3 linked regions of the Homo sapiens genome follow. The protein of the gene in region 3 purifies or fractionates together with the protein of the main gene of each other region. This does not show direct contact. Each region holds a gene or a part of one and is shown on either strand. Other genes may lie near its edges.

What was found. The genes of interacting proteins can lie anywhere in the genome.
Region 1: the proteins of CNKSR1 (region 3) and PHLDB3 purify together in Homo sapiens (affinity purification with mass spectrometry; 2 studies listed by BioGRID and IntAct, with this or other methods). This does not show direct contact.
Region 2: the proteins of CNKSR1 (region 3) and HAUS5 purify together in Homo sapiens (affinity purification with mass spectrometry; 2 studies listed by BioGRID and IntAct, with this or other methods). This does not show direct contact.

What each region holds. Positions count from the first base shown.
Region 1 is NC_000019.10:43,494,712-43,501,746, forward strand, and holds part of PHLDB3 (pleckstrin homology-like domain family B member 3), read right to left. Parts: coding exon 7,023-7,035; intron 3,166-7,022; coding exon 3,037-3,165; intron 2,569-3,036; coding exon 2,407-2,568; intron 910-2,406; coding exon 784-909; intron 629-783; coding exon 545-628; intron 105-544; coding exon 1-104.
Region 2 is NC_000019.10:35,615,735-35,622,769, reverse strand, and holds part of HAUS5 (HAUS augmin-like complex subunit 5), read right to left. Parts: intron 5,647-7,035; coding exon 5,577-5,646; intron 5,484-5,576; coding exon 5,401-5,483; intron 4,916-5,400; coding exon 4,858-4,915; intron 4,700-4,857; coding exon 4,575-4,699; intron 4,369-4,574; coding exon 4,305-4,368; intron 4,202-4,304; coding exon 4,071-4,201; intron 3,884-4,070; coding exon 3,721-3,883; intron 3,347-3,720; coding exon 3,266-3,346; intron 3,158-3,265; coding exon 3,012-3,157; intron 2,759-3,011; coding exon 2,647-2,758; intron 2,576-2,646; coding exon 2,443-2,575; intron 2,348-2,442; coding exon of another isoform or gene 2,331-2,347; exon of another isoform or gene 2,283-2,330; intron 170-2,282; coding exon 37-169; intron 1-36.
Region 3 is NC_000001.11:26,173,176-26,180,512, forward strand, and holds the start of CNKSR1 (connector enhancer of kinase suppressor of ras 1), read left to right. Parts: upstream 1-4,315; 5' UTR 4,316-4,372; coding exon 4,373-4,424; intron 4,425-7,277; coding exon 7,278-7,337. UniProt on the Homo sapiens protein: May function as an adapter protein or regulator of Ras signaling pathways.

The DNA.
Region 1 (7,035 bases), on a different chromosome or scaffold from region 3:
CTGTGGACAGAAAAGAGGCAGGAAGAAGTAGGGGTGGCAGCGGAGTGGGCCACGGCATCCTGGAGCACCAGCAGCTGGCGGTCTGTCTTCTGGGTGAACAGCAGCTGCAAGAGATGGGGTGAAGTTTCGTGGGAGCAGGAGAGACCCCAGAGCAACTGCCAGTTTCCACGTGCTCTGGCCCATGCCTCTAGTGCCACCCATTTCTCAGAAAGAAAAACTAAGGAGAGATGGAATGTGGTCCTTCGTGTCCAGTCTCCCAATGTAGGGCTGTGGGCAGAGACTCCTGGCTCCCTGAGGAGGGGCTGGGGGCTGGACTCCTGGGTCTGAGGGAGGTGGGGCTGGGGCCTGGACTCCTGGGTCTGAGAGAGGAGGGGCTGGGGCCTGGACTCCTGAGTCTGAGGGAGGAGGGGCTGGGGCCTGGACTCCTGGGTCTGAGGGAGGAGGGGCTAGGGCCTGGACTCCTGCGTCTGAGGGAGGAGGGGCTGGGGACTGGACTTTCAAGTCTGAGGGAGGAGGGACTGAGAGGCATACAAAATCCCCATACCTTAGTGAGGGCCGGGTTGGGCTCAGAGAAGTCCCCGCCAGGTGTTCCCTGAAGGCAATTGAGCTCGAGCAGCCGGCTCCGTTCCTACCAGAAGATATGGACAGCTACGTGTCAAAGTCAGAATGGGCTGTCCCAGCTGCTTTCCCTAATGTCAGGAGACATCTGGGGTGCAGGGAGGTGGTGGGATGCCCCAGGGGGAAGTGAGGACGGTAGGGTAGGGCAGGTGACAGGTAGCTCACCTGTGACAGGGCCTGAAGGGCCTCCTCCTTCTTCCGGCTCAACCCCCGGCTCTCGGCTGCCATCTGCTCCCCCAGTGACTTGAGCTGCTCTTCCAGGACCCGGATCCGGTGCTGCAGAGCACCCCTCTGTCCCGGTTACTCATCTGTCACGGCCCCAGCCAGCTCTCCAGGCCACCCTCCCACAGAACCACATCTGCCTGGAGGGCTGGGGTTTACTCCAGCCACTCCCAGAGACCATGGGATCGGAGTGTCCAGGGCTGGGGACCCAGCGTTCAGCTCCCTGGACCCTCTTCCCTTTTGAGGGTCCAGAAGAGATCTGGGGAAGATGAAGAGAAAGGGATGGACAGAGAGAACAGTAACCAAGACAGGCCCCAAAAGACAGAGATGTAGACAAAGATTCAGGCAAAAGAAAAGATAGAAATAGAACAGAGACAAGTAGAGACAACCCGAGACGAAGGAAAAGCCAGCGGGAGAGGAAAAAGATCCAGAAGCAGGTGGGGAAAGGAGACCCAAGAAAAGCTCTTTTTTTTTTTTTTTTTGAGATGGAGTTTTGCTGTTGTTGCCCAGGCTGGAGTGCAATGGCTCAATCTCGGCTCACCGCCACCTCCGCCTCCCGGATTCAAGCAATTCTCTGCCTCAGCCTCCCGAGTAGCTGGGATTACAGGCATGCGTCACCACCCTCAGCTAATTTTGTATTTTTAGTAGAGATGGGCTTTCTCCATGTTGGTCAGGCTGGTCTCAAACTCCCAAACTCAGGTCATCTGCCTGCCTCGGCCTCCCAAAGTGCTGGGATTACAGGAGTGAGCCACCGAGCCCGGCCGAGCTTTCTAATCCAAAACTTTGGGAAACTCTGTGTTAAATATGGTCAAACATGCCCATTTTTTCCCAAGGGTCTCACAAGTCAGACCCTTGAATGTGAGGCTCCCAGGAAGGATCTGATGAAGCATCTTTTTGGAATAGAGGCAAAGAATGTGGTGGTGAATACCAAGTTTGTTCAAATCCTGGCTGTGGCGAGGCACGGTGGCTCATGTCTGTAATCCCAGCATCTTGAAAGGCCAAGGTGGGAGGATCGCTTGAATCCAAGAGTTTAAGACCAGGTGAAACCCTGTCTCTACTAAAAATACAAAAATTATCCAGGTGTAGGGGCTCGCACCTGTGGTCCCAGCTACTCGAGAGGCTGAGGTGGGAGGATCGCTTAAGCACAGGACGTGGAGGCTGCAGTGAGCTGTGAACGTGTCACTGCACTCCAGCCTGGGTGACAGAGTGAGACGCTATCTCAAAAAATAAAAATAAAAAAATCCTGGCTCTGTCCCTTACTAAGGAAACTTGGAAAAGATTACTTAAGCACCTTGACCTTCAGCTTCTTTATTTATAACGTGAAAAAAAAAAAACGTAATAGAACTTGCCTCATAAGTTTGTTGTAAGGATTCAGTGAGGAAATGCTCATGAAATATTCAGGACCATATCTGGCACATAGTAAATGTTTCATTAGTATCAGCTCTTGTTGTTACTATTCAGAAGAACATGACAGGCAGGAAACAAGGACAGAGAAAAAGGCAGGCACAGAGCAGGGGAGACAGAGAGGAGCAGCAAGGGGGGCAGCGCTGGTCAGGCATGACTCACTCTGTGCTGCGCCATGCTGGCCTGGAGTTCCTGGACCTTGGGGTCTGGCACCTGGGGCCCAGGGCTGTCCCGATCCTCCTCCTCCTGCCGGCTCTCCCGCTCCAGTTGCTGGAACTCCAGGTCCTCATAGGCACGTTGGGCCACATCCAGTTGTTCCCTCATCTATAGGTCGGAACACAAAAAGGGTGGAGGCCTGAATCCCTAAGACCCCAGGGAGTAGTGGGCTGGGGCTGGGACTCCTGGTCAGAGGAAGAAGGTGACTGAGGACTTGGATTCCTGGGTCCTGGGGAGGAGGGGGCTAAGAATCAGAGGGCCAGCTGGGCACAGTGGCTCACGCCTGTAATCCCAGCACTTTGGGAGGCCGAGGCAGGTGGATCACCTGTCAGGAGTTCGAAACCAGCCTAGCCAAAATAGTGAAACCCCGTCTCTACTAAAATGCCAAAAATTAGCTGGGTGTGGTGGTGCGCACCTGTAGTCCCAGCTACACGGGAGGCTGAGATGGGAGAATCGCTTGAACCTGGGAGGCGGAGGTTGCAGTGAGCCGAGATCGCACCACTGCACTCCAGCCTGGGCAACGAGGCGAGACTCTGTCTCAAAAAAAACAAAAAAGAAAGAACCAGATGCCATTACCTCCTGCACACCCTGCAGAAGCCGCTCGCGTTGGTCCTCTGGCTGTGAGTCGAGCTGTCCCTGGGCCTTGCGGAGTCTCTGGCGAAGACCCTCTAGGCGATCCCGTTCCTGGCTCAGCCGCCTCTGTTCCTGAAAGAACAACAAGGTTCTCACCCTCAGCTTAAGCATAGCGGGAGAAGCAGCAGCCAGCCATATCTCAGAGCCTGCCTGGGGTGTCGGCTGTACAAAGGCAGGGACTTCATCTATGTGATTCACTCCTGTGCAGGCCTGCCTCACAGTCAGCACCAAGATTTTAAAGAAATGAATGAGGCCAGGTGTGGTGGCCCACACCTGTAATCCTAGCACTGTGGGAGGCCAAAGTGGGAAGATCTCTTGAGCCCAGGTGTTTGAGACTAGCCTGGGCAACATAGGGGGAGCCCATCTCTACAAAAAAACAAAAAAATTAGTGGAGTGTGTTAGTGCACGCCTGTAGTTCCAGCTACTCGGGAGGCTGAGGTGGGAGGATTGCTTGAGCCAGGGAGATTGAGGCTGCACTGAGCTGTGTTTGCATCACTGTTCCAGTCTGGGTGACAGAGGGAGACACTGTCTCGAAAGGGAAGGAAAGGAGAAAAGACAGAAAAGAAAGAAAGAGAGAAAGAGGGAAGGAACGAAGGAAGGAGAGAGAGAAAGAAAAGAGGGAGGGAGGGAAGAGAAAGAAAAAGAAAGAAAAGGAAAGGAGGAGAAAGAGAAACAAAAAGGAAGGAAGGAAGGAATGATGGAAGGAAGGAAAGAAGAAAGAAAATTAATGAATGCAAAACATATTCATGTTATGTGATACGGTGGATGCAGAAGTGGATTGTGTCTGGGCCCTGTCCTCCAAGTGGGAACACAGCCAGTTGGAAAGATCAGGGCAGTAAAATCCAGAGACTGTGGGAACCCAGAATGAAGAACAATGTCAGCCAGAGGTTGAGGCTGCAGTGATTGCACTACTGCACTCCAGCCTGGGCGACAGTGAGACCCTGTCTCAAAATCAAAACAAAACAAAACAATCAGGGAGCATTTGGATCTGGGAAAATAAAAGGAGCTAGAAGAGCATTTTGGGCAGAGGAAGCGGCTTGGCACAAATGCATGAAAGTTGAAAAGTACAAGAAGTCTGGGGGACAAACTCCAGCCAGGGTGGAAGAGGATGTGGTGGTGGGAAGAACGTGGTGGGAGAGGACAGTGGGAAGGCCAGCTCGTCCAGCTCACGGGGGGTTTGGTCAACCTGGGGATATGGGGAGCCTCAGAAGGACTGAAAGGATGGGGTAGGAGCTAGGAATCATCCCTCTGGGAGATGGGTTACAGGGGTGGAGAGCAGCTGCCTCGGGAGTCCTCCAAGCAATGAGGGTGAGACCTAAGCTGGGGCCTGGGCGGTGGGGCTGAAAAATAGATGGACTAGACAGAGAGGATCAGGAAGCAGAAAGGATAGGACATGGTGGTTGACGGGCTTGGAGGTGAGAGACAGGGAAGTGTACAGGGCAAAGTCCAGGACTCTGGCCTGGTGACCAAAGGGACAGCAAGACAAACAGTGTGGAGAAGGGAGTTGCTGAGGTCAGCCAGACTCCTGGGTCAGAGGGAGGAGGGGCTGGGGCCTGGATTCCTGGATCTAAGGAAGGAGGATCTGGGGGTCTGGACTTCTGGGTTTGAGGGAGGAGGAGCTGGGGGTCTGGACTCCTGGGACAGAGGGAGAAGGGGCTGCGACCGAGATTTCTGGATCTGGGTGAGAAGGGAGTATGAAGTAGCCAGTACCCTAGGAAGAAGAGCACATTTCTGTCTCAGGAGAGAGGGCCTGGGAGAAATATGTGATCTTTGAGGATAAATGAGGGCCTAGGACCCAGCCTCATAAAATTCCAACATACACGACACTTGCAAAGAAAAAAACTGACAAAATCACAAGTCACCATTTTCCAACCTATAATGGTAACTGACCCAAGCAATGACCACTGATGGATGTTACAATCTTCAGATAAAAGATTCTTTTTTTTGAGATGGAGTTCTGCTCCCGTTGCCCAGGCTGGAGTGCAGTGGTGTGATCTTGGCTCCTGGGAGCTGCAACCTCCACCTCCCGGATTCAAGCAATTCTCCTGCCTCAGCCTCCCGAATAGCTGGGATTACTGGTGCCTGCCACCACGCCCAGCTAATTTTTTGTATTTTTAGTAGAGATGGGGTTTCATCATGTTGGCCAGGCTGGCCTCGAACTGCGGTGGCTCATACCTGTAATCCCAGCACTTTGGGAGGCCAAGGCGGGCAGATCACCTGAGGTCAGGAGTTCGAGACCAGCCTGACCAGCATGGAGAAACCCCATCTCTACTGAAAATACAAAATTACCCGGGCATGGTGGTGCATGCCTGTAATCCCAGCTACTGGGGAGGCTAAGACAGGAGAATCGCTTGAACCTGGGAGGCAGAGGTTACGGTGAGCCAAGATCACGCCATTGCACTCCAGCCTGGGCAACAAGAGCGAAACTGTGTCTCGCAAAAAAAAAGAGACTAGGGTGATCTTATTAGGTCGGGACAACCAGAGATGAGGTTCCCAACACTGGCTCAGGAAGCACTAAAGCACTTCTGAATACGATCAAACCTCTCCCTCTAACCAACACCCACTTGCAGAAACAGAGGCATGTTCAAGGGCACCACAGGCATGCGATCAGCCATGCTCTGCCTATAGGACAGAAGACTGGATTTTTCCAATAAACAGTATGGGGAAGACACAGCGGGTAGGAACCACCAGAGATAAAACAATGGGCAAGACGTATCAGCCAATCACACTGAACTTTGGGGACTTCATTCAAACAAGCCACCTGTTAACTGGCATTTTGAGACTGTCTGGGAAACACAAAAACTAACCAGAAATAAGACAATACTAAGAACTTATTAATTTTTTATTTTTGAGACAGGGTCTTGCTCTATCGCCCAGGTTGGAGTGCAATGTTATAATCACAGCTCACTGCAGCCTCTACCTTCTGGGCTCAATTGATCCTCCCACCTCACTCTTCTGAGTCTGAGGCCACAGGCACATGCCACCATGCCTGGTTAATTTTTGTATTTTTATTTTTCACAGAAACGGTGTCTTATTATAATATTGCCAGGCTGGTCTCATAGTCTTGGCCTCAAGCGATCCTCCCACTTTGCCCCGCCCCCCGTACCCCCCCCCCACCCCGCAAGTACTGGGATTACAGGTGTGAGCCACTTGGCCCAGCCTAAAAGGATTTCTTATCTGTCAATGATACACTCTAAACATATGTACAGACCATATGATGTCTGGGATTGGCTTTTAAAACTGGGGACGAGAACAAATTGGAGATAATGAAACAAGAATGTAAGAATATTAATCATTGATGAAGCTGGTGGGCACAGGACATGGGAGCTGCCTGACTATTGTGGGGTGGGTTTGGAAGTTTTCTTTTTCTCTTTTTTTTTTTTTTTTTTTTTTGAGACGGAGTCTCCTTCTTGTCACGCAGGCTGCTGGAGTGCAATGGTGCGATCTTGGCTCACTGCAACCTCCATCTCCCGGATTCAAGCGATTCTCCTGCCTCAGCCTCCCAAGTAGCTGGGACTACAGGCGCCCGCCACCACGCCCTGCTAATTTTTGTATTTTTAAGCAGAGACGGGGTTTCGCCATGTTGCCCAGGCTGGTCTCAAACTCCTGAGCTCAGGCAATCCGCCCGCCTCGGCCTCCCAAAGTGCTATGATTACAGGCGTGAGCCACTGCTTCCGGCCAGTTTGGAAGTTTTTACACACCCACATTTAAATAGCAAACGGACAGGGGACAAAGGAAGAGCCCCAAAAATCTCGCCCAGGGAGGGAGAAGGAAAACCAGGAGGGGCATCTGCCCCTCACTCTCTCAGGAGCCCAAATGTCTTCCTTTGGGGAATGGGGACAACCCCGGGGCGCAGGTGGCTAGGAGCACACCAACATCCATGGACCAGGAAGGACACTGCTGATGAAGACCCGGTGAGCCAAACAGACCTGTTCCCGCTGC
Region 2 (7,035 bases), on a different chromosome or scaffold from region 3:
TTTCTGTTTCCCATCCGCGGCACGTTCCCCTCTCACCAGTCCCCCACGATCCCCTGCAGCTCAGGGATTCGCTCCAGTGCCTGTTTCAGTAGCTTCTCCAGCCTCTTCAGAGCCTGCCCCAGGTTCTCTTTCTGCTGTTTTTCCTGGGATGCCTGGATCTGCAGCAGCTCTGAGGGTGAGAAAGCCAGGAGGCAGCTTTGAGTCCTCTGGCTCGCTGGTACCTTACAGCAATGAGTCCCCAATTCTCCAGTCCCCTAGTCTTGACCTCAGCAGCTCCCGCAAACCAATGATGAGTCTGTCTCCTTCTCTTCCCAGCCTGGAAGTCCCCTTCTGAGGGACTGCCCTTGAGATGAGGACCTGTCCCTCCTCCCAGATCCTCATCTCAAGGGCAGTCCACCACCCCCAGCCCCATCCAGGCCTCCTTCTGGATGCCTTCCTCCCTCCCCGTGAGAGCCCATCAATCTCCATGGCCTGTCCGCTCAGTCTCCTGAGCGTTTCTTCCTCTCCTCTGCTCCAGGCCTCAGTCTCCTGCTCTGGTTCACCCTCCGCACTACACCACAGTGATCTTCCTGAAGCCTAAATTTGATGCTCTCCCTCCTGTCTAGAACCCTCCAAGGTTCTCCAGTGCCCCCAAGGCAGAGTCCAAGCCCTTCAGCAGGTATTTGAGTTTCATGATGTGGCAAAGCCTGGCCGATTCCCAGGGCCCACAGTAGAGAGTATCTTTCCTCCTGGAGGCCCCTCCAACACTCTCGCTCCAAGGCTTCCTCCTCCGCCTGCTCTAGCTTCACCCTAGCGGTGCTTTCCTCTGGGACTGGGACTGGGCCTACCTCTCCATGTGCACAGAACAGGCCCAGCTCAGCAAGTGCAGACGAGCAGCGTGATCAGACAAGCTGGGCCTGAATCCTGACCCCATCCCATCCCTGCCCTGTGACCTTGATCACGACACTGGCTCTTTGTTCAGCTCCGTCTGCTGTCAGGTGGAATTACTGGGGCAGGGGACCGATGGGAGAACTCTGGGGATGGGACCCTTAGGGCTTGCTGAGAGGCTGAAGCTGGTGAGGGTGGGGGGATTAGGGTGATGGAGAAATTCAGGATGACTCCTGGGTTTCTGGGTGCAGCACTTGGATGAGGAGGGTGAGATAATTTAACAAGGAAGGAAACCAAGAAGAGGAACAAAATTGTTTTTTGGAGTAGAGAGAACCAGGAGTTCCATGATAGATGTGTACAGTTCAAGATGCCCATGATTATAAGAAATATAAAATTAGCTGGGTGTGGGGTGCATGCCTGTGGTCCCAGCTACTCGGGAGGCTGAGGCAGGAGGATGGCTTGAGCCCAGGAGGTTGAGGCTGCAGTAAGCCAGGATGGCACCACTGCACTCCAGCCTGAGTGACAGAATGAGACCTTGTCTCAAAAAAACAAAAGCAAAAACAAAAAACACATGAGGTGGGCAGAGGGCGTGGTAGGCAGAGGCTGAGGTGGGCAGAGGCCGTGTGGGGTCTGGGGCTGCTCTCATTGCTCCTGCACACTGTTCCCTCCCCTTGTGAAGAAGTGGAGGGCAGGGAGCCCCAAACTCAGAGGCTTGAACAGTCTCTTCCTCCAGTGCTGCTGGCACTGCCGGTTCATTTCTCATCAATTCTCCTCTTCCATGTATTTATCCTTTCATTCTTTACTCTTTACTTCCATCTGGGGAAACCCCTGGGGTGGGGACCTTTCTCCTCACTCCCCATCAAGCCATCTGGGCTGGCACCTGGTAGACACCCAGTATTTGGTGAGTGAATCCAGGAATGAATGACTTCTCTAACCTTCAGTTTCCTCATCTGTAAACTGGGGTTCTTAAAAGTCCCTTTCCTCATCGTCATGACTCCAAGAGACTGTGTGTGTACACAGACAATGATGCTAATCACATTGGAGACACAGGGTGCTTACTGCATAGCAGGCAGTGTTCAGTGCCCTGTGTGGGTCCCCTGCCTCAATCTGCCCAGCACCTCGGTAAGATATTGCTTCATGCTTACTCCACTGAGGAGGAAGCTAAGGCACGGGGAGGCCACACAGCTAGGAAGAGACGGCAGAGAGGATTCCCAGGCTTTGAACTGCTGAGGTATACTATGTGACGGTGATGAATGAACACGTGGAAAGTCGACGGCAGTGTAGCTTAGTGGTTGGGAGCACAGACCCATTTCAGACCACCTGGATTCAAATTCCAGCTTTGCCATTTGGGCAACCTACTAACCTCTGCGTCTCAGTTCCCTTCTCTGTAGAATGGAGAGAACAGCAGCACTTACCTTATGGGACTGCCGTGCAGATGAAACAAGGGAGAATGTTTAAAGCCCTTAGCACACAATGGGCACTGCGTAAACAACGGGGTTGCTGGTAAGGACTCGTGGAGGCTGCTGGTAGTGGGAATGGGCGGGGAGGCTGGATGGGGTGGCAGGGCAGACCTACCCTGGGTGGGAAGGCCTGGCGGCAGGCTGGTCTTCATGTGGAGTAGATCCCAGCACCAGAGGCTCCGCTGGTCCTGCAGGAGCAGAAGGTCCTGGCGAAGAGAGGCAGCCGCCGGCAGGAGCAGCTCCGAGGCCTGGAGGAGGAGGGAAGGACGGTCACCTGGGGCGGGGCTGGGGAGACAAGTCACAGGAGACGGGCACTCACCTTCCCTGGAGGCAGCCCCAGCTTGTGGCTCAGCGCTATGAAGCTGGAGCCCCTTGGGGACGCGGGGTGCAGCTGGTGGATGGATGGGAGGACCGTGGGCAGGGGCTTCAACCTACGGGCGGGGAGAAGTCTGGGTTGGGTGGGGACTGAGAGGAGGCCTTGGGTTCTGGAGGCTCTGGGGGCCCAGGAACTTCAAGGTGGGTCTGGGGACTAGGATGCCAAGACCAGGGCTGCTGACCCAAGGGTGAGGTCTGGCAGCCTGGGAACACTGGGGGTCTGGGGTTATCTTTTTTGAGGAGGTTCAGGGAGTGACAGTCACCCATGGCAGGGGATGCAGGGCAGGGGTGGGGCAGCCCCAGTCTCACTCTCCCGGCCTGTGCCGCAGCAGCGTGCCCAACAGAATGTGGGGCAAATGCCGGACTTCCTCCTCCAGACAGCGCAGCAGCTCCCGGCTCTGTGGTGCCACTGCCTCAAATGTAGGGACCACCTTTCGCTGGACCAGAGCTAGCACCTGTGGGGAAGGGGAGGGGTGGGTGGGGCATCACAACATCACAAGTCCACCCAGCCCCATCCTGGCAGATCCAGCCCTACCCAGACCTCACCCCAACTCCCATCTCACCTCCCCCGGGCTCCGGCACAGGCGGGTCTTGCTGGCCGAGTTTCCCTTGATGAGCAGGCGGACCTGTTCCTGGGTCTCCTCCTGAGGAACCAGGATACCCTGAGACCCACTCCTCCCAGCTCCCAGCCTCAGTGTGCCTCTCTGCTTAGGTCCTGCTTCTGCCTGGGAGTCTCACCTGGGCTCTTGCCTAGGAGGCCCAGTTCTTAATTTTTAAGTGACAGCATTCTTTTTTTTTAAGTGATAGCATCTTGCTCTGTCACCCAGGCTGGAGTGCAGTGGTGTGATCATACCTCACTTCAGCCTTGAACTCCTGGGCTCAGATCCTCCCACCTCAGCCTCCCAAAGTGCTGGAACCACAGGCATGTGCTACCACACAGGGCTCAGGCCCAGTTCTTAGCCATAGTTTTCAAGCCTCCCCTCTGGCCCTCCACAAGGCCCTGGGCCTAGCCTCTCACCACCAGCTGGCGCCAGTGCAGGATCCGCTGCTGTTTGGCCTGTAGCTCCCTCAGCAGGAGCTGCCGATGCCCAGCTGCATCCTGCAGCTCCTGGCTCTGATCGTGCAGGGCCTTGAGCTCCGTCCACAGGCAACAGCGCCGAAGCCCCAGTATCAGCACCTGCCTGCAGGGCAAGTGGAGGAGAGCAAAGGAGAGAAGGGTGACTGAGCCACACAAGGGACCATAAACCAGGGAGAGACACTGCAGGGAGAGGAGGCAGAGATAGGAGCCACAGAGGCTGAAAAAGTCCAATGGGCTGAGACACTCAGAAGCGAGATGGCCTAGAGACCTCTTCTCGGAGAGCCCCCCACCTCTCACTGGATCCCAGGACGCGTCTCTCCACCTCCTCCACCAGGCCCTGGAGGCGCTGGGTCAAGACTTGCCGCTCCTTCAGGAGGGTGCTCCGCTGGGAGACCAGCACACCCACAGTCCGCCAGCCCTCCTGCAAGCGGGGTACAGAATCAGGGTACACCCAGGGCATGATCCATGGGTGAGGGGATTAAGGAAGTCTTGGAATGTGGTGGGGAGGCGAGCCCTGGGGTCACCTGGATGAGATGAACCATGGACGGCAGGGTCTGGCTGGAGTCTGACTGGTCCGGGGCCTGGGGTCTGGGGTGGGGGAAGAGCTGCTGAGGGAGCCGTGCTGCGGCCTTGCCTTGGTACTCGAGGGTGGACAGTATCAGTCCTGCCACCCCACCAGGCAGTGGGTTTCAGTTCTACCCCATCAGCAGGTGGCTGGGCCAGGGGTCCTGAGGCTGTCCCAGCTCACCCACTCACATGGCCTTCCCCAACTGTGAGAATACCCTGCCCCACACCTGGATATCTCTGTGTCGCCAAGCCCATCCCCACTGCACAGGGACCGAATCTCTGCCTCCCGCTCTGCAGCCAGGTGCTCCAAGGCAGCCAGGACGTGGCCTGGGGGGTGGTTTGTCAGCAGCGTCTAGGGGGAGGGAGGGTGAAGTCAGGGCAGGATCGGGGCAGGGCTGTGAGCTGAGACCCCATGGGAATAGGGCTGTCATCAAGAGTTAGGTCCTGGCACCCTAAGTTTTGATCAAGGAGCGGGAGGGTGTGGCTTTCCTGAGAGCCCTGCCCTCTCACCTCCACTGAGCTCAGCCACTGCTGGTACGAAGTGCCAAAGTGGTCATCATGAGGGGTTCTGTGGGGTTGGGTAAGCGGACAGAGAACGTTACAAGACACGTCAATTATCCTCTAGTTATCACCACCACCCTATAAGGTAGGGGCTGTCATCTTCCCTATGCCTGTTAGACTTGAGTTCCCCAATTATACCAACCTGCTGGCTTTGGGGCCTTTACATGGGTTGTTCATCTGGGACACTCTCTGGACCCTTCACCCCAGCTAAGCCTCCTCACCAGAGAACCTCTCCCCTCCCTGCCTTCTTAGCTGGGAAAGGCACTGCCTCTGGGTGCCCAGAGCCTCTCAGGCCTCCTCACTCCCGCAACAGCCCTGACCACCTGGCTGTCACTGTTTGTGATGAGAGACTGTCTCCTTCTATTCCCAGCCTGGAAGTCCCCTTCTACAGAACGTAGCCCAGAAGCTCAGTGTCTGAGGAATTAATAAATAAGAGACCCCCACTTAAAACCCAGGGTCTTTACAGGGTCTCTGGGGGCTAGGGACACTCACGGGAGGCTGCCCCTCTTGGCCTGGGGAAGCAGGAGGTTCTGCAGGAACTGGGCCCGGAGGGTGCAGGCTGTTCGGACATCACGCTAGGGAGAAGAGGAGGAAGGGACCTGAGGGGGACCCTAGCATCTGCCTGACTCCAGGCTCCCTGCCCCTTCTCCCATGACCAGGACTCTTACCAGGACCACGGGCTCCAGGCCCAGAGCTGCCGACGTGAGGGATCCAAAGGTCACATCTACTTTGGCTTTCCTGGAGGGAGAAGTGCAGCTGGGGCTGGGGTCCCTGGGAGAACAGATGTCTGTGCCCCATCTCCTCTCACTGCCAGCAAGGCCGGTCAGAGGAATCACTAAGCCTAGATCTCGGGAGCCATCTCCAGATTAGGCCACTGTCACCTCCCAGCTGGAATATTGCATTAGCCTCCCCACTGCTTTTGCTCCACGAGACTGTTTGCCACCCAGAAGTCAGTGATTCTGTTAAAACTGTAGGAAGATCATGTCCCTGCTCAGATCTGTCCAAAATAATGTGATGTTTCCCCAGCGCATTCAGAATAACAATGGGCCCAGCGTGGTGGCTCATGCCTGTACCCCAGCGCTTTGGGAGGCTGAGGTAGGTGGATCACTTGAGGTCAGGAGTTCAAGGCCAGCCTGGACAACATGGTGAAACCCCGTCTCTACTAAAAATACAAAAATTAGTCGAGCACAGTGGCATGCGCCTATAATCCCAGCTACTGGGGAGGCTGAGGCAGGAGAATCGCTTGAACCCCAGAGGCAGAGGTTGCAGTGAGCCAAGATCATGCCACTGCACTCCAGCCTGGGCAACAGAGCCAGACTCTGTCTCAAAAAAACAAAACAAAACAAAACAAAAAAACCAAACCCAGAATAACAATGGTTAACAGGCACTTCTCTAAGCACTTCACATGATTTATTCCACCTAACGATCATGCCTACCCTATAAGCTTGGTATTAATATTATCCCCATTCCACAGATCTTAGAATCTGAGGCACATAGAAAGAAGTTAAATACCTTGCCCAAGGTCACCCAATTTTTTTTTTTTTAAACAGAGTTTTGCTCTTGTCACCCAGGCTGGAGTGCAGTGGTGCAATCCAGGCTCACTGCAACCTCCTTTTCCTGGGTTCAAGTGATTCTCCTGCCTCAGCTTCCTGAGTAGCTGGGACTACAGGCACGTGCCACCACACTCGACTAATTTTTGTATTTTTTAGTAGGGACGGGGTTTCACTATGTTGGCCAGGCTGGTTTCGAACTCCTGACCTCAAGTAATCCGCCTGCCTCGGCCTCCCAAAGTGCTGGGATTACAGGTGTGAGCCACCATGCCCAGCCTTAGGTCACCCAATTTTAAGTGGCCAAGCCAGGGCATGAACCAGTGTCAGGGTAAAATCGCAACACATCATCCACAGTTCTCTGTCCACTCCTTCGACCTCACCTCCTCAGGTTCTCGGTCTTGCCTGAGAAACTTGAGCTGACATTGGCCTCCGGGCTGCTCTTCCTGCATGCTGAGCACACCACCTCTGCTCTTGCTATTCCTTCTCCACAGAAATTCCTCTTCCAACTCAATGTCCCCTCCTCAGAGGCCTTCGCTGACCACCCTCGCTAGGGCAGCATCTCCCTCTCCCTTCTATG
Region 3 (7,337 bases):
AAATAGGCTGGGCATGGTGGCTCACACCTGTAATCCCAGCACTTTGGGAGGCCAAGGTAGGTGAATCACTTGAGGTCAGGAGTCCGAGACCAGCCTGGCCAACATGGCAAAACCCTGTCTCTACTAAAAATAAAAAAATTAGCTGGGTGTGGTGGCGCACACCTGTAATCCCAGCTACTTGGGAGATTGAGGCACGAGAATCACTTGAACCTGGGAGGGAGAGGTTGCAGTGAGCCAAGACTGCGCCACTGCACTCCAACCTGGGCAGCGGAGCAAGACTCTCTCAAAAAACAAAATGAAACCCTTTAAAATAGAAGTTGTCAGCCGGGCGTGGTGGTTTACGCCTGTAATCCCAGCACTTTGAGAGGCCGAGGCAAGGAGATCACTTGAGGTCAGGAGTTTGAGACCAGCCTGGTCAACATGGTGAAACCCCATCTCTACTAAAAATACAAAATTAGCCGAGCATGGTGGCACACGCCTGTAATCCCAGCTACTTGGGAGGCAGAGGCAGGAGAATAGCTTGAACCTGGGAGGCGGAGGTTGCAGTGAGCCAAGATCATGCCATTGCACTCCAGCCTGGGCAACAAGAGCAAAGCTCTGTCTCAAAAAAATAGATAAAAATAAATAGAAGCTGCCACTTACTGTGTTCCTAACTGCCTAACCCTGGCAGATGCTGGGAGCGTAGAGTAAAGGCGCCGTGGTTCAGGGAGAGAGGGGGCTGGTTCTCACCTCTGGTGGCAGCTCAGGAAAGATATTTGATGAAATCAAGATCTGTCTACCGAACACTGATAAAGGCTCTATTAGAATTTACTGGACTTCCCCAGAGTGCCACAGGGAGGCTGCTGCATGAAGAGGCAAAAATGTTAAACGAGGATGCAGCACGGAGTGTTCAAGGGACACAGACCTGAGGCAAAAGACAAAGCTGGAGACGGGCATTTTGCAAATTTGAAGCCAACTGGCTCACAAAATGAAAGAGGCTGTTAATACCAAGTGTGAAGGTGGGATGGCATCACCAGAGCTGGCCAAGTTCAGAGAAGCTGGAAATCTCAATTTGGATGTGACGTTATTAAATGATGACAACACACGTACACTACATGGGCCAACCATGGGCGAAATTCAGACTTTGGGTCTCTGGGTTACAGGTAAGGTCGTGACAGGCTTTGATGACTGGGGGTGCTGCAGAAATTCTGAAGTAGGTGACAACAGGTAGCTCCTCCCCACAGAATTAAAGCAATAATAACTCATATCTACCCCATGATACAGATTTCAAAGTACTTAATGTCATCACAGTGCTAAGGCCTAGGAATCCCCTTCTGGAGACAAAGAAACAGATTCAGAGAGCTGTAGAAGTTGGGCTGAGTCACATAGCAGTTGAGTATGGAACTGATTTTATCTGATTTTTTTTTTTTTTGAGACAGAGTTTTGCTCTTGTTGCCCAGGTTGGAGTGCAGTGGCGCAATCTCGGCTCACTGCAACCTCTGCTTCCGGGTTCAAGCAATTCTCCTGTCTCAGCCTTCCGAGTTGCTGGGATTATAGGCGCCCGCCACCACGACCGGCTAATTTTTTGGATTTTTAGTACAGACAGGGCTTCTCTATGTTGGCCAGGCTGATCTCGAACTCCTGACCTCAGATGATCCACCCGCCTTGGCCTCCCAAAGTGCTGGGATTACAGGCATGAGCCACCGCGCCCGGCCTTTTTTTTTTTGAGGTGGAGTTTCACTTTTGTTGCCCAGGCTGGAGTGCAATGACGCGATCTCAGCTCACCGCTACCTCTACCTCATGAGTTCAAGCAATTCTCCTGCCTCAGCCTCCCGAGTACCTGGGATTACAGGCATGTGCCACCACACCCGGCTAATTTTGTATTTTTAGTAGAGATGGGGTTGCTCCATGTTGGTCAGGCTGGTCTCGAACTCCTGACCTCAGGTGATCCGCCCGCATAGGTCTCCTGAAGTGCTGGGATTACAGGCCTGAGCCACCACGCCCGGCTGATTTTATCTGATTCTAAAGTCCTGGGAGTCCCCTGACCTGATGATGATGATGAAAATGAACATTTACTATGTGTCAGATATTTTTCTAAGATTAAAGCTCTTGCTCTGAGGTTCAGAATTCAGGGGATCCATAAACTTGGATGGGAAAAAATTATATTTTTATTTTTGCTAAACTCTAACCAAAATTTATGATTTCCTTCTATATGGATTGAAGCAGTAGCAGTATCTTTGGCTTAGTCACCAATAGAAATCACATATTTTCATATCAAATTGTAGTTATTGCAAGTATCTCAAAATATTTATGCTCAAGTGATTTCAAAATCACAGTGGTTGTTAAACCACCACTAAATTGTTCGTGAGCAACTTCTGTTTCAGATGCTCCTGTGATGTAGCCGCCATTAATTGGTTACCTCCAGGCTTAGCAGTGGTTCAGTGACCAAAGGGCGAATCTGCCTGTTCTGAGTAGGGCTTCTCCACTCTTCTGCATTCCCTGTCTTTTTTTTTTTTTTTTTGAGACGAAGTCTTGCTCTGTCGCCCAGGCTAGAGTGCAGTGGCGCGAACTCGGCTCACTGCAAGCTCTGCCTCCTGGGTTCACGCCATTCTCCTGCCTCAGCCTCCTGAGTAGCTGGGACTACAGGCGCCCGCCACCATGCCTGGCTAATTTTTTGTATTTTTAGTAGAGACGGGGTTTCACCATGTTAGCCAGGATGGTCTCGATCTCCTGACCTCATAATCCGCCCGTCTCGATTATAGGCGTGAGCCACCATGCCCGGCCCAGCATTCCCTGTTTTTAGTTGTTTGCTGATCAATATGTAAGAGGAGGGGCGTCAAAGACCACCCCACAGTTTAATGTCCTTATTCAAGCTGGTCGACAACACACTGAGGTCATTAAAAAAGAAAAATTTAACTTTCGGCCAGTCTTATTAATGTTAGTAAACACATAATATAAATTTCTGGTTTTATTTTTTTGAGATGGGCTCCTGCTATGTTGCCCAGGGTGGCTTTGACTCCTGGGCTTGAGTGATACTCCCCCGCTCAACCTCTCAACCTCTCGAGTAGCTGGGACTACAGTCGTGTGCCAGCACTCCCCAGCTCCAAATTTTTTTTTTGTTTTTTGTGGGTTTTTTTTTTGAGACGGAGTCTTGCTTTGTTGCCAGGCTGGAGTGCAGAGGCGTGATCTCAGCTCACTGCAACCTCCGCCTCCCAGGTTCAAGCGATTCTCCTGCCTCAGCCTCCTGAGTAGCTGTGACTACAGGCGTGCACCACCACACCCAGCTAATTTTTGTATTTTTAGTAGAGACGGGGTTTCACCATGTTGGGCAGGCTGGTTTCCATCTCTTAACCTCATGATCCACCCGCCTTGGCCTTCCAAAGTGCTGGAATTACAGGCGTGAACCACCATGCCCGGCCAAATTTGTTTTTAAATATAGTTTTGATAATTGTTCTCATTGTAATCCTAAGCATTTTGTTTTGTGCATTTATTTATTTATTTATAATACAGAGTTTTGCTCTGTTGCCCAGGCTGGAGTGCAGTGGCACGATCTTGGCTCACTGGAACCTCCCCCTCCTGGGTTCAAGGGATTCTCCTGCCTCAGCCTCCTGAGTAGCTGGGATTACAAGCACCCACTACGCCCAGCTAATTTTTTGTATTTTTAGTAGAGATGGTGTTTCACCATATTGGCCAGGCTGGTCTTGAACTCCTGATCTCAAGTGATCCGCCCACCTCGGCCTCCCAAAGTGCTGGGATTACAGGCGTGAGCCACCGCGCCCGGCCTGTTTTATGCCTTTATAAGCAGCTATTCTGAGAAAGCATTCACAGGCCTCACCAGATGCCAGAGTCCATACTGCAAAATCCAAGGGAGGCTAAACACCCCAGTTCTAAATGTTTTCAAGCCATTCAGATACTGTGCACAGCTGCCCTTTGAAGTACGGTCTATTATATCTCTTTTACAGACCCAGAAACTGAGGCGCAGAAGTTAGGGTCAGCCCCAGGTCACACAGCTAACAAGAGCTGGCCTAGGCACCCAGGGACCTGGCCCCCTAGCCTCTGTGCTTTGCTACTGATTTCAGCGCTCCTCTTGTGGCTTTTTCTTGAGGAGCCCAAGGGTCAGGGTCCCACCCCGCGATATGAGGCCAGTGGCACTGCCCCCTAGCAGGCGCGAGATGCCAGAGCCCTAGGATGTCTGAAGGGCCGGGCAGGAGGCGGACGGGCGTGGGCCAATGGCTGTCGCAGTGCCTCATCTTGCCGTCTGTGTGAGCCCAGGTATGCAGTAGGCTCCGCCCAGGACCCAGCCCGGCCCCTCCTTAGGCCTGGGCTCTGGGAGCGGAAATTCCGGCGACAGCAGGGCAAAACAGGAGCTGATTCGAGCTGGCAGAGCTGGGCCATGGAACCGGTAGAGACCTGGACCCCCGGAAAGGTGGCAACTTGGCTGAGAGGTGGGTGGGGCTGGGGTAGAGTTGGGCTTGAAGGGGACTAGGTGTGGTGTCCCACCGGGAAGCGGGAGGAGAGGAAAAGGAAAAAAAATCTGCGGACTGGGTGCGCTGGTTCACACCTGTAATCCCAGCACTTTGGGAAGCCAAGGTGGGTGGGTCACCTGAGGTCGGGAGTTCAAGACCAGCATGGTGAAACCCCGTCTCTACTAAAAATACAAAAATTATCTGGGGGTGGTGGCAGGTGCCTGTAATCCCAGCTACTTGGGAGGCTGAGGCAGGAGAATCGCTTGAACCCAGGAGGCAGAGGTTACAGTGAGCCGAGATTGCACCGCTGCACTCCAGTCTGGACGACAGAGCGAGATTCAGCTCAAAAGAAAAAAAAAAATAATAAACTGCGGGCTCTATCAGTCGGTCAGTCAGTCAACAAATATTTACAGAGCACCTAACATGTTCCAGGAACCGTGCTGGGCAGAGAGACAGATGAGATGACCCTGGGGGGCCCAAGGACCCAGAAGGGGGCCCCTCATCATGGCAGTAGCCCAAGAGGCCTCTAGGGTGATAATGGGGAGGCGGTGTCATGAAAACAGGAGGGAGGCCTGACAGGCCCACACCCACTGTATCTCCTTCATCTTCCCTGGCCCCAGGGCCAGTGGGCTGTTGTTAAATCCGTTTCTTAGAGTCAGAAACTGACACACAGAGCCAGGAAATGATTTGCTCAGTCTCTGGTGTCATTTTCCCCGCTCCACACCCTGAGCTCCTAGTGACAGAAGCAGAAGCCCTAGGCCAGACTGAAGAGGTTGACACAGCCCCACCCTGGGGCTCCTATCCAAGGGGCAAGGTGCTGTCCAGGCTCAGCGAGCCCACACAGATGGGAAGCAACACACCCCACAGGCAGACTCAGAGAAGGAAGGGCCTCCTGACACACAGTGCGACCAGGAGCAGGCAGTCAGGACACCCCTCCCAGAGTGGGGAGCTGGAGCGCACTAGAGACAGGCTCAGGAGGACCAGCCCGGGTAAGGGCAGGAATTCAGGGCTGGGTTCAGACTCCCAGGCTGGATTCCAGGCCCACCCCCACCGCTTGCCAGCTCTGTGACCATAGGTCTTAGTTTTTCTGTCCATCAAATGGGAAAGGCAACTCTGACCTTATGAAGTCGACAAAGTGAGACAATCATGACATAGTTCATTTGTAGCTCAATGCCTGGGTCTATTGGGAGGGCACCAGCCCAATACAGTCACCGTGCAGGAAGGAGGTGGCTCAGGGGCCCATAGCCAGGGAGTGATAGGTTCATGAACTCCCAGTCCAGTGCTCTCAATGTGACACAGGGAACACACACACACACCTCCCCCAGTGAAGGAGCCTGGCTTAGAAGGGGAAGAATTCCTTCGAAGAGTGAGCAAGCTACTTAACCTCTGTGTCAGTTTTCCCATCTGTAAGCAGGATAATGATAGTCTTTACCTCCTAGAAATGCAGTGAGAATCAAATGTGTTAATATGTGTAAAGCTCTTATAGATTTGCATAGCACATAGTAAGCCCTCAATAGACACTTTTCTTATTTTTCAGTGCCTACCTTGTCCAGGCACAGGCCGGGGGTTAGAGACAAATGGTTATCTAAGGCCTGATCTTTGAAGAGCCTGTGATAAAATGGGAAAGACCGATGGTCAAGTGCAGGGGTTTGTGGAGGCTCAGGGGCAGTGGGAACAAGAGGAGAGCCCTCCATCCCACTCAGCCTGGGAAGTTATGGAAGGCTTCCTGGAGGAAGTTAGATGAAAAAGGAAGTGAAGGAGATAGAAGAGCAACGCCAGCAGGAGGAATAGCACTTGCAAGGACGCTGAGGTAAAAGGGTGTTCCAGGAGCTGCAAGGAATTAGCTCTGTGCATCTGAAATGTTGAGTTTAGGGGGCTCTTCAGGATATGATGCTGGAAAGGGAGGTAGTAGCCTAATCATACAGGGCCTGTAGGTCATGGTAAAGTCTGGCAATAATAATATGATGGCTATTATTGGCTGTCTCCCACGAACCAGACAGTGGCCAAGGCCTTGACATATGTTGTGTCATTCAATACACACATGATTAGAAGGTAGGTACTTTTATTATTCTCACATTACAGGTGAGAAAACTGGGCACAGAGCAGTGCTATTACTTGCTCAAGTGTTCACAGTGTCTCAGTGACTCCATAGCCTCTTGTTCTTATCCCCTGTATCATTAGTTCTCAAACTTAAGGGAGCATCACAGTCACCTGCATTAAAATACAAACTGCTGGCTGGGCGTCGTGGCTCACACCTGTAATTCTAGCACTTTCAGAGACTGAGGCAGTCAAATTGCTTGAGCCCAGGAGTTCGAGACTAGCCTGGGCAACATGGTGAAATCCCACCTCTGCAAAAAATACAAAAATTAGCTGGGTGTGGTGGTGTGTGCCTGTAGTCCCAGCTACTTGGGAGGCTGAGGTGGGAGGATGGATTGAGCCTAGGAGGTCAAGGCTGCAGTGAGCCGTGACTGTGTCTCAAGCCCCTGTCTCAAAAAGAAAAAACAAAACAAAAACAAAAAAAAGACTGCTGGGCCCCAACCTCAGAGTTTCTGATTCAGCAGGTGTGGGGTGAGGCCTGATAATTTGCATTTCTAACAAGTTCTCCGGTGAGTCTGCTGCTGCTGGTCTGGGGGCCACTTTTAAGAACCCATGTCCTATACTTTCCTGCTTCTCAACTCAGTGGCCTCATCTGTGAAATGGGCAGAACAGCCTGGGTGTCAGAGTTGTCATTAGGGTTAGACTAGAGGGAAAAGAGCTTTGCAGGCATGAAGAACCATCCCAAAAGGTCCTGACACCTCTGCTTCCCCGAGCTGAGCCTTACTCTCCCTCCAGGTCTTGACGACTCCCTGCAGGACTATCCCTTTGAGGACTGGCAGCTGCCTGGCAAGAACC